Linked DNA regions of Homo sapiens: region 2 is linked to region 1. Evidence: fine-mapped expression QTL. A gene starts in region 1. The other region holds a variant in brackets. All regions are shown on one strand. Distances are between the middles of the regions. Region 1 holds the start of STX1A (syntaxin 1A). Region 2 has its middle 12 kb from the start of ABHD11.

Region 1 (8,324 bases):
GTGGTGGCTTACACCTGTAATCCCAGCACTTTGGGAGGCCGAGGCGGGCAGATCACGAGGTCAAGAGATCGAGGCCATCCTGCCCAACATGGTGAAACCCCGTTGCTACTAAAAATACAAAAATTAGCCGGGCATGGTGATGCACACCTGTAGTCTCAGCTACTCAGGAGGCTGAGGAAGGAGAATCACTTGAACCCAGGAGGTGGAGGCTGCAGTGAGCTGAGATGGCACCATTGCACTCCAGCCTGGAGACAGTGCGAGACTCCGTCTAAAAAAACAAAAAAAAAACCAACAAAAAACACCACCTCCAACCAGGAAGGCTGGGAGGGAGTGCTCCTTACCTCCCTAGCATGGAGACTGCTAGGAAGAACAGACCCTGCTGGAACCACGGGGAGCTGGATGCCCTGAGCTTCCCCTGGCAGAGGTGGGGCAGCCCTGGTGGTCTCTCCTAGCAGAGACTCCAGGATTCCAGGACACCTTCCTGGATGTAATAGTCTGACTCCTCCAAGAGGCGCAGAGGCCAGGCAGCCTCCAGGCGTGTCCCAGGGGAAGCCACCAGGCTGGCAAGGTTGATTCATCACTGCTGAGCACAGTGGCTGTTGTCTGCCTCGAGGGCTATTTTTTTCCCTTCTTCTTTTAAATGACTAATCAAAGTCAATATCACTAGTGCAGAGAGGCCCGGAGCTGAGTCAGGGGTGTGCGAGAGGCCAAGCTGGGTCTCCAGGAAAGACGGCTGTGCAATCTGAGCCTCCTCACCCTGTCTCCAGCCTCCAGCTGTGTGTACACCAGGTCCCCGCCCTGCAGAGCCTGCCCCTTCACAGGGCCCCAGAGTGGCTCAGGGAGGCAGCTTCAGGCCGTGGAAGGGGCCAGGCTCTGCCCCCACAGGCTGCATGACCTCAGATAAACACCTGGCCCTTTCTGGACCTGTTTTCTGATCTGTAAGATAGGAGGTTGAACTAGATGGTCCCGGGAGGCCGTTCCACCTGCACCCCAGATGAAAATGTACCCAAATGCATCGTTCATGCTGGGAAACCTCTGGAACGTAATGGGAGGAAGGATCGGGCGAGCCCTGTCCGGCTCCTGTTCTTACACTCTCGTGCCTGCCACTCTGCAAAGTAGGTAACACTGGCTCCATTCTGCAGATGAGGAAATGAGCAGAGGGAGATTAAGGATGAACCTGCCCGGTGTTGCCACCCAACCGCCAGACTCTTCCCAGCAACGAAAGAGAAGGGGAAACTGATGGGCAAAGCAGGGCCCTGGGCCTTCCCATCCAGGCCTGCCTGGGCTGCTCCAGTGAGTTGGGCCCTAGTCTAGACCTCAAGGCACTTCAGGGGGCCCCAGACACCAGCTGTCAGGACCACCTGCTATTCTCTCCTGGTTGAGCATTCCAATCTCTCTGCCTTCACTAAGCTGTCCCCTCCTTTGGATCACCTTCTCTCCTCCTATTCAAATCCAGCTCCTGCTCCTGTGCTATCCCAGGGTCTCTTCTTCCAGGAAGCCTTCCAGGATTGTGCTGCTCCAACTCTCCCTCCTTGCTACGTCTTCAGCCTCCTGCAACAGGTCCCATGTGTCTGTCCCACATGACCTGGCACATAGACAAATACATGTTCTGGGCCCAGGGAGAAAGGTCAGCTCTGCAAAGTCCCCAGGAAGAAAATCAGGGAGTCTCTGAGTTGAGGGGAGGAGGCAGCTACAGCCTGAGTGGGGCTCCTGGGGATGCTCTAACCTAAAAGTCTTTCCCTGGCTGTGTGACCCTGGCCCTGTCTTCGGTCTCTCTTTGTTACCTGTAACCTGCAAGTGGCCTTTCTGATCTCTGAGGGACTGCGACAGCATTGAGGCCCCCTGGCTAGTCCCCAGTGACCCCCTTCACTCCCCATCTGCAGAGGGAGAGTTGGGAGCTGGAGAAGGCTGGAGAAGGCTGGAGGGCTGGGCCGGGCCTGCAGAGTGAGGAAACGCGCCAGCTCCTTCCCCAAGTGTGACTTTTATAAATAAGCTCTCTTCGCCTCCTTCCAAATGTGGTGGTGTTGGGTGGGGGAGAAGGAGAAAGAAGAGGGAGGAGGAGGAGGAAGAGGGAGGGAGGGAGGGCTGGGAGCGGTGCACAGCCGCTGTCCCCAGCACCATCTCTGTTCAGCCCAGCCCAGCCCAGCCCGCCCCAGTCCAGCCCAGTCCAGCCCAGTCCAGCTCAGCCAGTGCTGGCCTCTTCCTTTCTGGGGATTCTGGGCTGAAAATTCTGACTCCTGGGGCTTCAGGCCTCCTACAAATGTGGAGCTGGAGTCAGGAGACCTGTAGCCCTGCTTCTCGTCCCGAGAAACTGAATTCTAGGCTTTCCCATCCCCACTTCACAGATGGGAACCCTAGGTCCAGAGGGAAAGCAGCCTGTGGGAACAGTGGCCCCACCAAGACTGACTGTCTCACCCCACCCCGGGTGGGCTCCTGCCTGCCAGCCGTCCACCTGTCTGCTAGAAAGCCCTCCCTGGGCAGGGCCACCCAGCAATGGGTACAGCCTCCCTGGGCTCTGAATGCCTTGTGTGGGGAGGGTGGGGGTGTCTGGAGCGGAAGCCTCAGACCATTCAAAGCAAAGCCTGGCTTCACCATCTAATCAGGGGGCGAGGAGGTAGTAACAGAGACAGACATCAGAGCAAAAAGATCTGGGTTCAAACGCTTCACAACCCCAGCTCCACTGGCTGTCCCCCAGTGTCAGCCAGGCCTGAGTCTGACTATCTTCAGGGATGAGGCAAAGCCCTTTTCTACCACCCCTCCCTCTAGCAGGCAAGCCGTGTTTCTTTTGTGCCTCAGTTTCCCCTTCAGCTAGGGGGATGAAGGCTGACATGCCAGAGGCTATTATCCTATGTAGGGGCCCATGGTTCCCCTGACCACTTGGTTCCCACACACACCCTCAGGTAACCTACCAGGCGCCTAAACATCAGCACATTACACCACACAGCCATCCGTCACCAGGAAAACACTCATTCTGACTCAACGGAGCTCAGGAAACTTGAGGGCAACCACAGGGGCCGCGGGGGAAGTGTTTAGAGCCCATATGCGACTTGAGGGACCATCTTCTTCCTTTGAAACCTCATGGGGTTTACACCAGGGGCTGGGCGCTCGGCCAGGAATAACAGGTCTGGAGGCAAAGTGGAGGCCGTGGTGCCAGAGCAAGTGGGGGACATGAAGGCAGGGGAGCCCAGGTCCCGGCTCCAGGATGCCCAGGAGGCAACCATGACATAATGGGGCAGACAGGCTCCAACTCAGGGAGCCTCTGGGTGGAGAAGACAAGCCGTGGGGTCAAATGCCCAAAGGACACTTGACATTTTCCATAGGAGGGGACCTTAGGGTTCTAGTTCCTAGCCCAGGGAGCGGGGTGGGGGGTGCTCCCAGGGATCAGCAGGCAGGGCTGCCAGCCAGGTGGCCAGCCAGGGGACCAGATGACCAGATGAGACTCAATCTAGTCTTGAGCCTTGATCCACCCCCCCTCCCCGACACACCCAGAGAGGCTTCATTTCCGTCGCTGTCCTCCACTCCCGGTCACCATCCTCCTGGGCTCCTCATCCCTAAGGGCAGAGGCCAGGGGAAGGGGACCCACGCAGGCTGCAGGGGTCTCTGGGCTGGGAGAAGGTGGGCTCTGACTCAGAACGTTTGTGCATCCTCCTACTCCCCCCAAACCCCGCCCCAGGAGCCACACCCCAGGGGTTTCCCAGATACAGGTAGAAAAATAGATCCAAGTCGCAAGGAACCCTGAAGGGTCTGGAAACGCCAGCCAGTGCTGCCCGAAAGCCCGAAGGTGGATAGGTGGACCGGGGGCGGGTGTGACGCCCCCCCCCCCATACCTGGGGCGGGCAGTGGATCCCTACTGCGACCAAGCAGAGGGGGAGCCACAGGTGATGGGAGCCACAGGTGACCAGGGTGGCCCGAGGAGGCCGCCACCACCCGACGATCAGGTTTCCGCAGCGCGCCCCGCAGCGGGGCCCCGCGCAGGGGACCGGCACCGGCCCACCGCGGTCCCCTCGTCTGTCTACACCAAGGAGGTTCCCACCGCGGTCCCCTCGTCTGTCTACACCGAGGGGGCACGGGAGGTCAGAGATGAGGGGCAGTGAGGGGGCCAGAGAAAGGGCCTGCTCTGCGGGAGGGGGAAGAGGTCCCGCCACCAAAACCCCATCATACCCTCCGAACCCCCCAAATCAAGAGGGCCCCGAAAAGTTTATCCAGGACCCCGGACTCCAGCCGACCGTCCACGTGTCAGCGCGGCCGAGCTCACGCGAGCCTGACCCCGAGTGGGTCCGAGGGGCGGAACCCGGAGGGGGGTCGAGGTCCCTGGCTCGCCCCGCTCCCTTCAGCCCTGGCTGGGGGCGCAGGAGCGGCCACCATCCTGGCCGCGGGAGCCGGGCGGGAAGTGTCCGGCGCGTTGGCGCTGGCGGCGGGCGGCGGGCGGCCGCGCGCTGGGGCCGGACTCACCGTGCGGAGCTCCTGGGTTCGGTCCTTCATGCTCCCGGGAGTGGCAGCGGCGCCGGCTGCAGCCGTGTGAGCCCCGCATGCGCGACGGCCGCCCCGCGGCTGCGCAGCGCCAGCCCGGCCCCGCCCCGGCCCCCGGGACCCCGGCCCCGCCCCACCCCGCCCGGGCCCCGCCCAGACCCCGCCCAGACCCCGCCCCACCCCGCACGAGCAGCCCCGTGGGGATCGAAGCCCTGGGGTCTCGTCCTGGACGTTCCGCACGCGTGATCGCTCCCGGGGATGGGTCCCCAGAGACCCTGCTGCCTCCTCTGCCCCAGCCCTGTCTCGTTTTTTATTTATTATTTTTGGAGACAGGGTCTCGCTCTGTCGCCCAGGCTGGAGTGCTGTGGTGCAATCATAGCTCACTGCAGCCTTGAGCTCCTGAGCTCAGGCAATCCTCCCGCCTCAGTCTCCTGGGTGGCTGGGACTAGAGTTGCTCGCCACTACTCCTGAATAATTTTCAAATATTTTGTAGAGACAGGGTCTTGCTATGTTACTCAGGCTGGTCTTGAACTCCTGTCCTCAAGCGATCCTCCCTCCTCCCAAAGCTCTGCGATTACAGGCGTGAGCCACCGTGCCTGGCTTCCAGCCTCTTCCCGACTTAGCAGCTCAGCATCCCTGTCCCAGAATCCGGTCCTCATCCTCAGATCCCTTCACTTCCCCAGAATTTGCTGAAGGTTGTAACTCCCTCCTTCATTTCATTACCTTGGGACCTCCTGCTCTCCCTTCTGTTCCCCAGCCAAAAACCTCCTGGAGAGTTCCAGTCTGGGAGCCTCCACCCTTCCCCCTTGCTCCCATCATCCAGTAGGGACTCAGGCACTGGCCTCTTCTTTCCCTAGGATTTCTCAGTTCACAGCTCTGATGCTGCGTGACCCACCCCTTTTTCCTGCAGGATGAAGGAACTCCTCTATCTTTTTATGTTTGTTTGTTTGTTTGATTATTTATTTATGAGATGGAGTTTCACTCTTGTCGCCCAGGCTGGAGTGCAGTGGCGCTATCTCAGCTCTGCCTCCTGGGTTCAAGCGAGTCTCCTGCCTCATCCTCCCAAGTAGCTGGGATTACAGGTGCCCACCACCACGCCCGGCTAATTTTTTGTATTTTTTAGTAGAGACAGGGTTTCACCATGTTGAGCAGGCTGGTCTCAAACTCTTGACCTCTTGATTCTCCCGCCTCGGCCTCCCAAAGTGCTGGGCTTATAGGCGTGAGCCACCGTGCCCGGCCTATTTTTTTTTTTTTTTTTTGAGACGGAGTCTCACTCTGTTGCCCAGTCTGGAGTGCAGTAGCACGATCTTGGCTCACTGCAACCTCCACCTCCCGAGTTCAAGCAATTCTCCTGCCTCAGCCTCCCAAGTAGCTTGAGATTACAGGCACCCACAACCACGCCTGGCTAATTTTTTTGTATTTTTAGTAGAGAAGGGGTTTCACCATGTTGTCCAGGCTGGTTTCGAACTCCTGACCTCAAGTGATCTGCCTGCCTCAGCCTCCCAAAGTGCTGGGATTACAGGTGTGAGCCACTGCACCCAGCCAGGAACTACTCTATCTTTGGGAAAGAGATTTGAGTTATGGCCCCCCTCTCCTCCTTTCCCTGCATCCCCAATCCTGAACTCTGGCTCTAGGCCTGAGGTTCTATTTTCTCTTTTTTCGTTTTTGTAAAGACGGGGTCTCCTCATGTTGCCCAGGCTGGTCTCAAAGTCCTAGCCTCAAGCGATCCTCCTGGCTTGGGCTTCCAAAGCACTGGGATTACACTTGGCCAATGTAGGTTCTATTTTCTATCTAGAAGCCTGGGGCCTGGCTTCCTCTAGGACTCATGGGAAAACCTGTGGAGGAGTGGGAGTGGGGAGGCCAGTCAACAGCAGATGTTCTTTTGAAGGTCCCTGCCAGCATCTTGTTGCAACAGTGGTCTCGCACACACCCCCATAAGCCCGCTGTGCCCTCCACCACCCCCAGCTGTCACTTCTGTGGCCCACACCCTCTTGACCTGAAGCCAAGCACATCCCTTCCCTTCCCCAGGACTGCCAAAGCATTGGAGCTCTGGAGCCAATCCAGCCCCCTGCTGCCCAGTGTGTCTGGGCCTGGCACCTCTCCCAGACTATGGGCACAGGTTAGCTGGCTGCCAGGCAAGCTAGGGACACTGTTCCAGCTTTCCCTTCTTCCCTGGAAAATCTGGCCCAAGACGGTCCGATGTGGCCTGGCAGAGGGAACAGCCACACCCTGTTCCAGTTGTCCCGGCTTCAACTTTGGGTGCCCTGCAGAATGGGCATTGATGGCGCCCCACTTCACAGAGGAAAAGTAAGGAGGTAAGTGCTAGAGGAACTTGCCCAGAGATGACAAGTGACAGGGGAGTCTGCCTGACTCCTGGTCTAGCCTGCAGGGTGAGTCAGTGGGGTGGGTCACAGGTATGCCCCCAGAGCCCAGTGTCTGGCCCCTTAGGGAGAGGGCAGGAAAGGGAGGCTCAGCTCCTGCCCTCTGAGAGCCCTGGTGTCACACCAAGCATCACTCATTGAGACGCATATTAAATAGTAGCATGAAAAATGAATAAAGAAATAAATGTGGCCAGGCACAGTGGCTCATGCCTGTAATCCAGCACTTTGGGAGGCCCAGGAGGGAGGATTGCTTGAGGCCAGGAGTTTAAGACCAGCCTGGACTCCATCTCTTAAAAAAAAAAAAAAAGTGTGCCTTTCACTTCTTTTTTTTGTTTGTTTGTTTTTTTAAGGCTGAGTCTCTTTCTGTCACCCAGGCTGCAGTGCAGTGGTGCAATCCAGGCTCACTACAACCTCCACCTCCCATGTTCAAGTGATTTTCCTGCCTCAGCTTCTTGAGCAGCTGGGATTACAGGCACCCGCCACCACGCCCAGCTAATTTTTGTATTTGTAGTAGAGATGGGGCGTCACCATGTTGGCCAGGCTGGTCTTGAACTCCTGACCTCAAATGATCTACCCGCCTTGGCCTCCCAAAGTGCTGGGATTACAGGTGTGAGGCACTGCACCCGGGCTTGCCCTTCTCTTTAAACTCTGTTTTTCTGCTAAGTCTTTTCCTCATTTAATCATTCATTCATTCATCAAACATTAAATGGGAAACCATGCTCTGGGGCCACTGTTCTGCACTCAAGATGTTCCCACTGCAGTGGGGGAGACAGACATGGTTTTGGTAGGTGAGGGAACCAGGGTGGCTTCCCAGAGGTGGTGACATTCGAACAGGGTGTTGCAGTGGGATTGCAGCAGGGAGTGGACAAAGGAAGGATGCTGGGGCAGGGGTGGGGGTGGGGAGCTCTCTAAAATGGAGCACTCTACCGGGAGCACCTCAGGAGCCTGCTGTGGCACTTGGGTGGACATAGGTGGGGGATGAGCCCAAGGAAGGGGGAGGCCTTGGATGCTAAACTATTGTGCAGAAAAGGGAAGCCCATCGAGGGCCAGATTATCATTCCTTTATTTATTTAGAGACCGAGTTTCACTCTTGTCATCCAGGCTGGAGTAAAATGGCACAATCTTGGCTCACTGCAACTTCCGCCTCCCGGGTTCAAGCAATTCTCCTGCCTCAGCCTCCCAGATAGCTGAGATTACAGGCATGTGCCACCACACCTGGCTAATTTTTTGTATTTTTAGTAGAGATGGAGTTTCTCCACCTTGGCCAGGCTGGTCTCGAATTCCTAACCTCAGGTGATCCACCCACCTCGGCCTCCCAAATTTCTGGGATTGCAGGCATGAGCTACCATACCCAGGCTTCATTCCTTCATTTAAAAAGTATTGGCCGGGCATGGTGGCTTATGCCTGTAATCCCAGCACTTTGGGAGGCTGAGGTGGGCGGATCACGAGGTCAGGAGATCGAGACCATCCTGG
Region 2 (8,324 bases), 31 kb after region 1:
AAGGGAATGCTTCAGCAGAGACAGTATCTTGGCCAAGAATGGAAGGAAGGTCTGCCACCTGCTTCTTGGCAGGGTCCCCAGAGAAGAATGGCTCATGAGCCTGCCAGGCCGGCAGGACCATAAGCAGCTTGCAAAATATTCCTCTGTTTCCCAGGTTCAGAGCAGACACAGTGCAGCCTGCGGAACTGGAGGGGCTGTTGACACAGGATGATGGATGTCTTGTCATTGCTGCTAGAGGGCTGGATGCTGTACAACTCCCTGCAGGCTCCCTCCTCTCTAAGCAAATCTGGCCCTGTTGAGTATGCAGGAATTGTGGCCCAGTCTCAGGAGGACTGAGGTTAAACTTGTTTCCAGGCCGGCTGTGATGGTCACGTCTGTAATCCCAGCACTTTGGGAGGCTGAGGCAGGTGGATCACTTGAGGTCAGGAGTTCGAGACCAGCTTGCCCAACATGGTGAAACCCCGTCTCTACTAAAAATACAAAAATTAGCCAGCGTGGTGGCACCCACCTGTAATCCCAGCTACTTGGGAGGCTAAGGTAGGAGAATTGCTTGTATCTGAGACGTGGAGGTTGCAGTGAGCCGAGATTGAGTCACTGCACTCCAGCCTGGGTGACAGAGCGAGACTCCATCTCAAAAAAAAAAAAAAACTTGTTTCCAGCTGCTTCTGCAGAATAGAGCATCGAGGATGGACACTAAGGTGAATTACAGAAAATAATGTCATTGCACATTTAAGTTTGTTACTGACATTCGGTAACTGCTAGAATGCCATACATATTGGTCCACAACCAACTGACTTTCCTTTTCTTTTTCTTTTCTTTTCTTTTTTTTTTTTTTTGAGACAGAGTCTGGCTCTGTTGCCCAGGCTGGAGTGCAGTGGCAGGATCTCGGCTCACTGCAACCTCTGCCTCCTGGACTCAAGAGATCCTCCCACCTCAGCCTCCCAAGTAGCTGGACTACAGGTGCATGCCACCACACCTGGCTAATTTTGTTTGTTTGTTTGTTTGAGACCCCAGAACACAGAGCCCAGAAAAACAGGAAAATGTACAAAAAAACAAAATAGATTAAAATAGAAGCATATTTTATGTTGTTAAAAGATCATGCTGATGACCAGGGAGGGAAATGTCTGGAGGGGCCAAGATGGACAAGTCCAGGAGGAGGCAACACAGGAGTCTTGCTCTATCACCCAGGCTGGAGTGCAGTGGCACGATCTCAGCTGACTACAGCCTCCGCCTCCCGAATTCAAGCAATTCTCCTGCCTCCACCTCCCAAGTAGCTGGGATTACAGGTGTGTGCCACCACGCCCAGCCTAATTTTTGTATTTTTCTGTAGAGACGGGGTTTCACCACATAACCCGGTTGGTCTCAAACTTCTGAGCTCAAGTGATTCTCCTGCCTCAGCCTCCCAAAGTGTTTACAGGTGTGAGCCACCGAACCCAGCCTCTTTTTTTTCTTTTTCTTTTTCTTTTTTTTTTTTTTTTTTTTAAAGAGACAGGGTCTTGCATTGTCATATCCAGGCTGGAGTGTGAAGTGCATTAAAACAATCATAGCTCATTATAGCCTCCAACTTCCTGGCTCAAGTGATTCTCCTGCCTTAGCCTCCTAAGTAGCTGGGACTACGGGTGTATACCACCACACTGGCTAATTTTACGTATTTATTTATTTTAGTTTTAGAGATGGGGGTCTCACTATTTTGCCCAGTCTGGCCTTGAACTCCTGGGCTCAAACAATCTTCCCTCCTCAGCCTCTGGACTAGATGGGACTACAGGTGCACACCACCGTGATTTACATTTTTATTTATTTTCATTTTTATTTTTGAGATGGAGTTTTGCTCTTGTCACCTAGGCTGGAGTGCAATAGTGCAATTTCGGCTCACTGCAACCTCCACCTCCTAGGTTCAAGTGATTCTCCTGCCTCAGCCTCCTGAGTAGCTGGGACTACAAGTGTGAGCCACCATGCCTGGCTAATTTTTTGTATTTTTAGTAGAGATGGGGTTTCACCATGTTGGCCAGGCTGATCTCAAACTCCTGACCTCAAGTGATCTGCCCACCTTGGCCTCCCAAAGTGCTGGGATTACAGGCGTGAGCCACCGTGCCCAGCCGATTTACTTCTTTTGTTTTTTTTGAGATGGAGCCTCGCTCTGTCTCCCAGGCTGGAGTGCACTGGCGCCATCTCAGCTCACTGCAACCTCCACCTCCCGGGTTCAAGCAGTTCTCTGCCTCAGTCTCCCAAGTAGCTGGGATTATAGGCTCCCGGCTAATTTTTGTATTTTTAGTAGAGATGAGGTTTCACCATCTTGGCCAGGCTGGTCTTGAACTCCTGATCTCATGTGATCTGTATGCCTCAGCCTCCCAAAGTACTGGGATTACAGGCATGAGCCACCATGCCCCGCCCGGTTTACATTTTTGTTTTTTTTTGAGGCGGAGTCTTGCTCTGTCGCCCAGGCTGGAGTGCAGTGGCACCATCTCAGCTCACTGCAAGCTCCGCCTCCCAGGTTCCCACCATTCTCCTGCCTCAGCCTCCCGAGTAGCTGGGACTACAGGTGCCCACCACCACACCCGCCTAATTTTTTGTAGTTTTAGTAGAGACGGGGTTTCACTGTGTTAGCCAGGATGGCCTCAATCTCCTGACCTCGTGATCCACCCTCCTCGGCCTCCCAAAGTGCTGGGATTACAGGCGTGACCCACCGCACCCAGCCCCGATTTACACTTTCAAAGGACTATTTGGCTGTGTAGAAGAAGGTGTGAGGCAGATTAGAGGGGAAGCAGAGGAGAAGCGGCAAAATGAGGAAGCTATTGCAGACATTCAACTGAGGCATGATGGTCACATGACTGGAAGGTGGCTGTGGAAGTAGGGAAAGAAAGATAGATTTGGGATGTATTTTGGAGTTCGAATCAACAGGATTTGATGAGGAATGGGATGGGGAGGGGGAAAGATGGTGGTGAGGGAGAGGAAGACACCAAGGACAGCTCCCAGGTTTCTGGATTGAACATGTGGGTGGCGAGTAGTTGTGCTATTTACTGAGATGGGGAAGGTGGTTTTGTTTGTTTGTTTTTTTCCACTCTATAGGGTGCAAGTAAGGAGACTCTAGAATGTCCACTTGGGACATTCTAGCAGTTACCGAATGTCAATAAAAACTTAGATGTGCAATGACATTATTTTCTGTAATTCATCTTAGCTTTCACCCCAGTGCTGTAGGGGGCCTGCCCCTCCACACCTGTGGGTATTTCTCGTCAGGTGGGACGAGAGACTGAGAAAATAAATAAGACAGAGACAAAGTAGAGAGAAAGAACAGTGGGCCCAGGGGATCAGCGCTCAGCATACGGAGGACCCGCACCGGCACTGGTCTCTGAGTTCCCTCAGTATTTATTGATTAGTATTTTCACTATCTCGGCAAGGGGAATGCAGCAGGAGAACAGGGTGATAGTGGGGAGAAGGTCAGCAGGAAAACGTGAGCAAAGGAATCTATGTCACAAATAAGTTCAAGGGAAGGTACTGTGCCTGGATGTGTACATAGGCTAGATTTATGCTTCTCTCCACCCAAACAGCTCAGTGTAGTAAAAAATTACAGCGCAGCATTGCCGCCAGCATATCTTGCCTCCAGCCACAGGGCGGTTTTCTTCTATCTCAGAATAGAACAAATGTACGATCGGGTTTTACACTGAGACATTCTGTTTCCAGGGACAAGCAAGAGACAGAGGCCTTCCTCTTATCTCAACCGCAAGAGGCCTTCCTCTTTTACTAATCCTCCTCAGCACAGACCCTTTTTTGGGTGTTGGGCTGGGGGACGGTCAGTTCTTTCCCTTCCCACGAGGCCACATCTCAGGCTGTCTCAGTGGAGGGAAACTTTGGACAATGCCCAGGCTTTCTTAGGCAGAGGTCCCTGCGGCTTTCCGCAGTGCATTGTGCCCTTGGTTAATCGAGACTGGAGAATGGCGATGACTTTTACCAAGCATACTACCTGTAAACATATTGTTAACAAGGCACAGCCTGCACAGCCCTAGATCCCTTAAACCTTGATGCCATACAGCACATGTTTCTGTGAGCACAGGGTCGGGGCTAAAGTTTACGGATTAACAGCATCTCAAGGCAAAACAATTTTCTTAGTACAGATCAAAATGGAGTTTCTTATGTCTTCCTTTTCTACATAGACACAGTAACAGTCGGATCTCTCTCTTTTCCCTATACAATGCTCTATATGTTTGAGATGCCCCTGAGATATTAGAACAGTTAACACTTATGGAATGCTTAACAAATGCCAAGCACTGTTCTTGTTACCAAAACAGCAGGGGTTCAGGCGAGGTCCTGCTGCTTGCCGCACAGAAAGCCAATCACTGAGACGATTATTGCCAAGGAAGAAGGCTTTAATTGGGTGCTGTGGCTGAGATGGGAGATTGGTCTCAAATCCATCTCCCTGATCGACTGAAGTTAGGGTCTTATATAGCAGGGAACAAATGTAACCATGTATGGGAAAACAAGAACTTGGGGGAAGGGTAAGGAAGCAATCATGATGAATGAGGGGCCTGGCATTTCATTGTCTAGATGCCATGATCTGGTGAGTTTCAGTTCTTTCATACTTTTTGAGAGGGCTGATGGTCATTTCCTAAAGAAGAAATTCAGA[T/C]CAAGTAAATGTAAGTTTCAAGCTTTAAGACCAAAAGGGTTGACCCGCACCATGGCTCATGCCTGTAATCCCAGCACTTCGGGAGGCTGAGGCCAGTGGATCGCTTGAGGTCAGGAGTTTAAGACCAGCCTGGCCAACATGGTGAAACCCCATCTCTTCTAAAAATACAAAAAATTAGCTGGGCATGGTGGCGCACGCCTGTAATCCCTGCTACTCAGGAGGCTGAGGCAGGAGAATCACTTGAACCCAGGAGGTGGAGGTTGCAGTGAAGCGAGATCATGCCACTGCACTGCAGCCTGGGCCAAAAGAGTGAAACTCCATCTCAAACAAACAAACAAACAAACAAACAAGAAAACAAAGTACTAGGATTATAGGCATGAGCCAACACTGTGTCCGGCTTATCTAAGATTTTCATAGCTAGAGAGAAGTTAATGCCTGGCTTTGAAGCTTCAAAGGACAGGCTGACTCTTGTTCGGGGTAATGCAGCTGGTGACTTGAAGTTAAAACCAATGCTCCTTTGCCATTCTGAAAATCCCAGGGCCCTTAAGAATTACATTAAATCGGCCAGGTGCGGTGGCTCACACCTGTAATCCCAGCACTTTGGGAGGCTGAGGTGGGCAGATCACCTGAGGTCAGGAGTTCGAGACCAGCCTGACCAATATGATGAAACCCTGTCTCTACTAAAAATACAAAAATTAGCCAGGTGTGGTGGCATATGCCTGTAATCCCAGCTACTTGGGAGGCTGGGACAGGAGAATCGCTTGAACCCAGGAGGCAGTGCCGTGAGCCGAGATTGCGCCACTGCACTCCAGCCTGGGCAACAAGAACGAAACTCTATCTCAAAAAAAAAAAAAAAAAAAAAAAAAGAATTACATTAAATCGACTCTGCCTGTGCTCTAGAAATGGAACAACAAAGCTTAGGTGACTGCACATCTGTTTACAAGATGGTTTGCTGAATATTTGAAGCCCACTGTTGACACCTCCTGCTCAGAAAAAAGAAAAGATTCTGTTCAAAATAGTATTGCTTATTGACAATGCACCTGGTCACCCAAGAGCTCTGCTGAAGATGTACAAAGAGATTAATGTTGTTTTCATGGCTGCAAATAAAACATCCATTCTGCTGTTCATGGATCAAGGAGCAATTTAGACTTTTAAGTCTTATTATTTAAGAAATACATTTTGTGAGGCTGTAGCTGCCATAGATAGTGATTCCTCTGATGGATCTGGGCAAGGTAAATTGAAAACCTCCTGGAAAGAATTCGCCATTCTGGAAGCCATTAAGAACATTCAGGGTTCATGGGAGGAGGTGACAATATCCACATTAGCAGGAGTTTAGAAGAAGTGAATTCCACCCTCATGGATAAGTTTGAGGGATTCAAGACTTCAGTGGAGGAAGGAATTGCAGATGTGGTGGAAATAACAAAAGAACTAGGATTAGAAGCCAAGCGTGAAGATGGGACTGAATTGCTACAATCTCATGATCAAACTTGAAAAGATGATGAGTTGCTTCTTTGTTACGTCTTGGTGTTTTTTGAGACAGAGTCTCGCTCTGTTGCCCAGGCTGGAGTGCAGTGGTGTGATCTTGACTCACTGTAACCTCCGCCTCGTGGGTTCAAGAGATCCTCATGCCTCAGCCTCCTGAGTAGCTGGGATCACAGCTGTGCACCACCACACCCTGCTACTTTTTGTATTTTTTTTTTTTTTTTTAGAGAGGGGCTTCGCCTTATTGGCTAGCCTGGTCTTGAACTCCTGGTCTCAAGTGATCTGCCTGCCTTGGCCTCCCAAAGTGTTGGGATTACAGGCATGAGCCACTGTGCCTGGCAAGGGGTTGCTTCTTATGATGAGCAAAGAAAGCGGTTTCTTTTTTTTTTTTTTTGGAGACGGAGTCTTGCTCTGTCACCCAGGCTGGAGTGCAATGGTGCCGTCTGGGCTCACTGCAATCTCTGTCTCCTGGGTTCAAGCGATTCTCCTGCCTCAGCCTCCCAAGTAGCTGGGACTACAGGCACGTGCCAGCATGCCCAGCTAATTTTTGTATTTTTAGTAGAGACAGGGTTTCACCATGTTGGCCAGGCTGGTCTCAAACTCCTGACCTCAAGTGATCCACCTGCCTCAGCCTCCCAAATTGCTGGCATTACAGGCGTGAGCCACCGCGCCCAGCCAGAAAGTGGTTTCTTGAGATGGAAACTACTCCTGGTGAAGATTGTGTGAACACTGTTGAAATGACAACAAAGGATTTATAATATCCTATAAACTTGGTTGATCAGCCATCTAAGTTTTATAGTTTTAGATCTTATATTTAGGTCTTTGATCCATTTTGAGTAAATTTTTTTATATGGTGTTAAGGAACCAACTTCATTTTTTTGCATGCAAATATCCAGTTTTCCCAGCATTATCTGTGAAAAGATTGCCCATTCCTCACTGAGTGGTTTTGGTATCCTTATTGAAAATTATTTGACTTCATATATGAGTGTTTATTTCTGAGCTTTTTATTCTATTCCATTGGTCTATATGTCTGTCTTCATGCCAGTACCACTGTTTTGATTACTGTAGCTTTGTAGTAAGTTTTGAAAGCAGAAAGTATGAGTCCTCCAACTTTGTTCTTTTTTTTTCTGAGACAGAGTCTCACTCTGTCACCCAGGTTGGAGTGCAGTGGTGCAATCTCAGCTCACTGCAACCGCCACCTCCCAAGTTCAAACAATTCTTGTTCCTCAGCCTTCTGAGTAGCTGGGATTACAGGCTCGCACCACCATGCCTGGCTAATTTTTGTATTTTTAGTAGAGACGGTGTTTCACCATGTTGGCCAGGCTGGTCTTGAGCTCCTGACCTCAGGTGATCCGCCTGCCTCGACCTCCCAAAGTGCCGGGATTACAGGCATGAGCCACCGCGCCTGGCCTCTTACTGTTTCTGGATATGAATTTCCTGCTTCAATCAGGTCAGCCTCTGCTCACTCTTGTGCATATCATTTTTCTGCCTTGTGCATATCATTTTTCTCCTTGCTGTTGCCCATCAGTGAATCCTGCTTGGGAAGGCTTCCCCTCTTAGCTCTGCCCATCTCAAACTTACTTATTTAAGACTCAGAAGCATACTTATAGGTTGGGCATGGTGGCTCACGCTTGTAATTCCAGCATTTTGGGAGGGTGAGGTGGGCGGATCACTTGAGCCCAGGAGTTCCAGACCAGCCTGGGCAATATGACAAAACCCTGTCTCTATTTAAAAAAAGAAATTTAGGCCGGGCGCAGTGGTTCATGCCTATAATCCGAGCACTTTGGGAGGCCGAGGTGGGCGGATCACAAGGTCAGGAGATCGAGACCATCCTGGCTAACATGGTGAAACCCCGTCTCTGCTAAAAATACAACAACAACAAAAAATTAGCCGGGTGTGGTGGCAGGCACCTGTAGTCCCAGATACTTGGGAGGCTGAGGCAGGAGGATAGCATGAACCCGGGAGGCAGAGCTTGCAGTGAGCTGAGATGGCGCCACTGCACTCCAGCCTGGGCAACCAAGCGAGACTCCATCTCAAAAAAAAAAAAAAAAAAAAAAAAAAAAGAAATGTAATTAAAAAACAACAACAACAACAACCAGCCCTGCAGCACTATTCACAATAGCAAAGGCATGGAATCAACCTAAATGCCCATCAGTGATAGACTGGATAAAGAAAATGTGGTACATATACACCATGGAGTACTATGCAGCTATAAAAAAGAATG

Evidence for each region. PIP is the estimated chance that this variant, and not a neighbour inherited with it, causes the effect. A credible set is the group of variants that fine-mapping cannot tell apart.
Region 2: its variant is the best candidate, but not a certain one, in a credible set for the expression of STX1A in cerebellar hemisphere (GTEx, PIP 0.69).

What each region holds. Positions count from the first base shown.
Region 1 is chr7:73,715,150-73,723,473 of GRCh38, forward strand. It overlaps STX1A (syntaxin 1A), which reads right to left and starts at 4,520. Exons shown (of 10, transcript NM_004603.4): 1 at 4,453-4,520. The coding sequence starts at 4,482. RefSeq lists an enhancer at 298-829 and silencers at 3,916-3,995, 4,106-4,165, 4,176-4,375, 4,436-4,635.
Region 2 is chr7:73,746,502-73,754,825 of GRCh38, forward strand. No RefSeq gene overlaps it. Among named protein-coding and RNA genes, the nearest start is that of ABHD11, 12 kb to the left of the region's middle. The variant T/C (reference allele first, on the strand shown) is at 4,619.